Linked DNA regions of Homo sapiens: region 2 is linked to region 1. Evidence: fine-mapped expression QTL. A gene starts in region 1. The other region holds a variant in brackets. All regions are shown on one strand. Distances are between the middles of the regions.

Evidence for each region. PIP is the estimated chance that this variant, and not a neighbour inherited with it, causes the effect.
Region 2: its variant is the best candidate, but not a certain one, in a credible set for the expression of PITPNB in tibial nerve (GTEx, PIP 0.71).

What each region holds. Positions count from the first base shown.
Region 1 is chr22:27,917,846-27,920,345 of GRCh38, forward strand. It overlaps PITPNB (phosphatidylinositol transfer protein beta), which reads right to left and starts at 1,411. Exons shown (of 12, transcript NM_012399.5): 1 at 1,327-1,411. The coding sequence starts at 1,346. It overlaps TTC28-AS1 (TTC28 antisense RNA 1), which reads left to right and starts at 1,531. Exons shown (of 5, transcript NR_026963.1): 1 at 1,531-1,700. RefSeq lists enhancers at 611-1,596, 1,597-2,500, 1,752-1,931 and silencers at 862-1,181, 1,372-1,441.
Region 2 is chr22:27,891,567-27,894,586 of GRCh38, forward strand. PITPNB (phosphatidylinositol transfer protein beta) reads right to left here. Exons shown (of 12, transcript NM_012399.5): 7 at 2,989-3,020. Among named protein-coding and RNA genes, the nearest start is that of PITPNB, 26 kb to the right of the region's middle. The variant C/T (reference allele first, on the strand shown) is at 1,824.

The DNA of each region.
Region 1 (2,500 bases):
AAAGCAGGGAAGACAAATACCACCCCAAATAGTGGGAACTACAATTAGGTCTTCAGAAAGGGATTCCCTGAGAAGGTGACGTCTGAGCAAAGACCTGGAAGAAGGTGAGTTAGTGTGCCAAGGGAAGAACACTTCAAGCAAAGGGAACAAAAGCAGGTGGAAAGGTCTTGAACTGAACTTATTCTAGAGTAGCAGAGGAACAGCAAGGAAGCTTGCGAAGATGGAATGGGCAAGGAAAAGGTAGTAAATGAGATCAGGGCAGGAAAAAAAAGTGTAAAGCCTTGTAGCTGTTGCAGAGGCTTTGACTTTTATTCTGGGTGAGACAGGGAGTCTTTGGGAGGTATTAAGTCTCAGAGAAGTGCATCAGTGACTTTTTAAAGGAGGTTTAAGAACACTAAAAATAAGGTGTCTGAAAAAAGCTAAATTAAGCCAAAAATATTTCTAAGAATTTAAAATGAAGAATTTGAAAACCAACGAATGGGCCATACTCGACCTCCCTAGCTGCCCAAAGGATGCTGACGACACGAACCAGCTGTGACAGACGAACATTCAGAGGCAAGCAGATTTCCGTAATGTTTACAGTCCTTGCCAGTAGGAAAAGCCGTGACTTTTCAACAAAATCACTTGGCCAGTCGGATGCACCTCGAAATCCCTCCATTTGACAGAGCACGTGTTAACTTCTAAGAAAGTAGGTGGGGCCCGGGATGTCACCTCATCTTAAAACATGCGGAAACCAAAAAGAGAAAAGGCTCTCCCGTCAAGTCAGCGGAGCTGCCCAGGAGAGCGGAGGCTTTCCGGAATCCCGGCTCCACCACGAACTTCAAGGCGCCAGCGTCCCACCGCGAGTCCTGACACGAGGGCTGCCTTCAACCGGCAAGCCCATCTCCCGCTGGTTACCAGGGGACTCCACCCCGGACGACAAATCACAGTCAGAACCAACGTGTCTCTCCCACCCTCGGACTGCGGCTCCTTCCCACCGGCGGGCCTGGGGGTGGGCCCAGACCCAGCCTGGGGGTGGGGGGTTGGGGAGAAGGCGGGTCCCAGCGGAAACTCCCGGCCGCGCCTTCCCGAGCCATGCGCTCGGGCCGGGACCCAGCCGCCTTCGCCCCGGGGAAGGGAGAGGGCGTGTTACCACGGCAATGCCTGGAGGGCCGAGGGGCGCACTCGCTGAGGGGCTTCGAAGGGGCCGGGGGAGGGAGGGGGCGCCCGCAGGGAGGGGCTGACACAGGGCTGACTCCGATTTAGGAATATCCTACCACTTCTCCATCAACAAATCTCCCATCACTGCCGTCCCACGGCCTCGCTCGCGCCCACAGACCCACTCACAATTCCTTGATCAGCACCATCTTCCCGGAACCCCCTCACAGCTGCCGCCGATACCACCGCCGCCGCCGCCGCTACCGCCTCTCACAGCGCCTGCGCGGCCCCGCCTCCCTGCCCCCCCGAGCCACCATCGCGCCTGCGTGCTTACACCCTTCCGCCGCGACCAGTCGCGTCAGCGCGCGAGGGGGCCTAGCTCCGCCCAGTTTCGTGCCCCACCCCGGGCACACGAGGCCTCCACTGCGGTTGCGCAGCCTGCCGAAGAGCGTGCGGCTTCTACTGCGGCTGCGCAAGCTCGACGCGCGCACTCTTGTCTGCTTACGAGGGCTCCTCCCTTCAGCTTTGGTCCCTCGGGGCGTCTGGGCAGCCTACGCTTTCCGGTGAGTTTTCCAGTTGGTTCTTTGGAAGCCGTTTTGCGGTGACTGGTTTTCTGCTCTCTCTCACTGCTCCGAGTCAGGGCCCACCTCCTTGACCGACACCTCACCTCCATAGTCCACATAAAAGACTCCTGACAGGTTCTGGAGGCAGCCGACGCCAGCTTCTGTTCCCCTCCCCAGCCCTTGGCAGCTCAGGTTCCGCGGGAGGACGTTCACCTGCTTCGCGGTCTCGTGGAGGTCCACCGCGGCGGAGAATCCTAAACCTCACCTGTGACTCGGCAGGATGAGCGGCCAGCACTCCCGACGGAGGCCCTCTGGGAGAAAAGAGGCCCTTGGCCTCGAGACCCAGGAAAGCGGGCTGTTCAGGAGTTGGTTCGCGCAGTTACACCGAAAGCGCCGTGGGCCTCAAAGCCGCAGCCCGGAGGTCGCTGGCTTGCTCTGTGTCAGACACGGTTCTAGGCAGTGGGGATGCATCTAGAAGCAGACACAGTCCCTGTTCTCAAGAAGCTCACAGTCTAGAGGAGACAACTCACTTGGAAAGAAAGCAGGGAGAATTTGGGGTGGTGGGGAAGTGCTATGCTATGAATACAGTGGAGTACTGGGAGAAGCAGAGGACTCAAGACAAGGGCTGTCTTAGGAGGCGGTGTTTGAGCCTAGCCTGTTAGGATGTGAGAGGGGCATTCCAGTTGGAGGGAAATATGACCCGAGGATGGAGTAAGCCTAGGGTGTTCAAGGATCAGCTAGAGGGCAGATGTGGCCAGAACATCCTAAGTGAGGGTGGGAAATGAGCTGGGACCAACTGG
Region 2 (3,020 bases), 26 kb before region 1:
ATCCCCATGTGTCAAGGAAGGGAGGTGACTGGACCATGGGGGCAGCTTCCCCCATGTTGTTCTGGTGACGGTGAGTGAGTTCTCACAAGATCTGTTTAGGAGTTCCTCCTTCCTCCTCCTCTCTCTCCTGCCGCCATGTAAAACGTGCCTGATTCCCCTTCCACCATGACTGTAAGTTTCCCAAGGCCTCCCCAGCCATGCAGAACTGTGAGTGAATTAAACCTCTTTCCATTATAAATTACCCAGTCATGGGTAGTATCTTTACAGCAGTATGAAACAGACTAATATACTCTTAAGTGCTCACATTTAATCTTATAATTACTCTCATTTTACACAAGATAATACAGGCAAAGAGAGGCTAACCAACTTGTCCAAGATTAAATAGCCAGTAGGTGGCAGAGCCTCAGAATGGAAATCTGAAGCCCACCTAGTTTTAGAATGTATGTTTTTAGTCAAAGCTCCATACCTCACAACACAGATCCTCCTCACTTGGGCTCAATCCAGTCTTTTTCACTAGCTATCCACCCCAAACATCACCATTTTCACACAGAGAACTACCTACTCAGCCTTTGCATGTGCAGTGCCTTCCACCTGGAGCACCTATCTCAAGTGCTGCTGTCATGCATCCAGTGCCTCCTCTCCTCTCTGAAGTCTGTGCTGAGGTGGAGGTGATGGGAACCAGGGCCTCCACGGTTCTTGTGCAATCTGCCCTTACTCTGCTCTTTCCACCAGCATTCATGCCTGTAAACACTGCCCATTTTCGCCTGAGGACAGGAACAAAGAATTTTTATGCCTCCAGCAAAACCAAAGGTATCTTGTACTCTGCTGGTGAACAACGTAGACTGCAAACCTATGGACCATAAGTCTGAGTCAGTCGAGCCATTTTGTTTGGTCATTATAGCATTTTCAAACACCAACAACATAATGGGAATGCCTTCCCCAGGGCACCCGATCCTGGTGTGGCATACTGCTGCTTGGTATTTTAGTGATGGGCAGCTCCAGGCTTGTAAGCTGTCCTGACCTAGTCATTAACTAACTCACTCATTACTCCCAATTACTTCTCTTCCCATCATTCTTTCACATATAGTAAATCTTAGCTGTAAACAATACCAAGAGAAATAAAAGGGCATAACAGATATATCATTTCATTTCTACAGATTGAAAAACTCCCTATATAATGTCAAAGGTGGAAATATCCCTAAAATTGAAACAACTTCGAATCACAGCAAAACTAAAATTTAAGAACTTCTAGAACAAAAGTCCCTTATCAGTGCTCACACTTCTAAGCAGGAAGGGGGCCCTAGCAGAGTTGGCCCAGCCTGGCACTGGGTCACTGCTGGCAGTCTCAACCCCAGTGACATCTGAGAAAAGGTCGGGGACCTTTGTTCAGGCAAGTTTACCTTTAAATTTCAACAGCAAAACCAGACATTTAGCGTTTGACTTATTTCTGTTTCACTTACAACACTGCTCAAGTTCAGGGAATAAGCACCAAAAATAGAAATGGAAAGGGACGCCTACTGAACATACCGTGCTTGACCACGACAAAACAAAGGGTACCACTCTTATTCCAAAGCTTTAGCTCTCTAGATTAGAGGAAGAGGACCAGTGCTTGTATTTACACATGCTGTGTAAAACCAAAGCAGCACTTAGCACACTATAAAGTAAGAACCACATTAATATTCATAAACTTTGGCAAGATGAGACAGGGGTCTGTTTTTTCCTTTTTTTTTTTTTTTGAGACGGAGTCTCGCTCTGTTGTCCAGGCTGGAGTGCAGTGGCGCGATCTCGGCTCACTGCAAGCTCCGCCTCCCGGGCTCATGCCA[C/T]TCTCCTGCCTCAGCCTCCCGAGTAGCTGGGACTATAGGCGCCCACCACCATACCGGCTAATTTTTTGTATTTTTAGTAGAGAAGGGGTTTCACCATGTTAGCCAGGATGGTCTCGATCTCCTGACCTCGTGATCTTCCTGCCTCAGCCTCCCAAAGTGCTGGGATTACAGGCTTGAGCCACCATGTCTAGCCTTTTTTTTTTTTTTTTTTTTTTTTTGAGCTAGGATCTCGCTCTGTCACCCTGGCTGGGGTGCAGTGGTACGATCACGGCTCACTGCAACCTCAAATTTCTGGACTCAAGTAATCCTCCTGTCTAAGCCTCCTCATGTAGCTGGAATTACAGGCACATGCCACCATGCCCAGCTAATCGTTTTTTTCTTTTTAGAGACAGGATCTCACTATGTTGTCCAGGCTGGTCTCAAGCTCCTGTGCTCAAGCAATCCTCCCTCCTTGGCCTTCCAAAGTGTTGGGATTACAAGTGGAAGCCACTGTGTCCAGCCTAAGATTATTCTATTATGCTTACATATATAATCTTTATCTTGAGTCTTAATCTGGCATGAGGAATAAGCATCTTTACTTGTGAAAAAGAAATTTTTTTATTAAGTCAAAAGCCAGGAGTAGAAATATTTACATCTTAATAGGATTCAAAATAGAAAGCTAAACAACTATTAAATTAAAATACTCTACACCTACTTCTGGAATCTAAAAGAACATTTTTAAAAAGATACTCTACACCAACCATTTTCCACAAATAACAACTGTAGCTGAGTTACTAAATACTTGTATGCAAATTAAATTTTTGCTTTCTTAATCACATTTGAAAAGTAAAAGGGACCTAGCTGGAGGGAGAATTATTTTGTAAACAATGTGTTTTTTGTTTTTCAATGAAAACAACCTACATTTCCCAGGTATACTGGGATTTCTTAAAGGGATCACTTGCACAAAGCCAAAATCTACACAGAAAACAAATCGCCTTCTCTCTTACTCTGGTCTCTTTGCTGCACAGACGTACTAGACTTCACTCCAAGCTCACTTCGGCATAGAAATGTAGGCCATACAAGAAAGAAAGGAAATAATTTTTTTAACTTAATCCCAAATGTGATAGTAGAAAATAATTTTTAACTGTAAAAGGGAACAGATTAAATGTCATTGAGTAATACTTACTGCTGGTTCAACTTGACTTCTATCTGCAATAT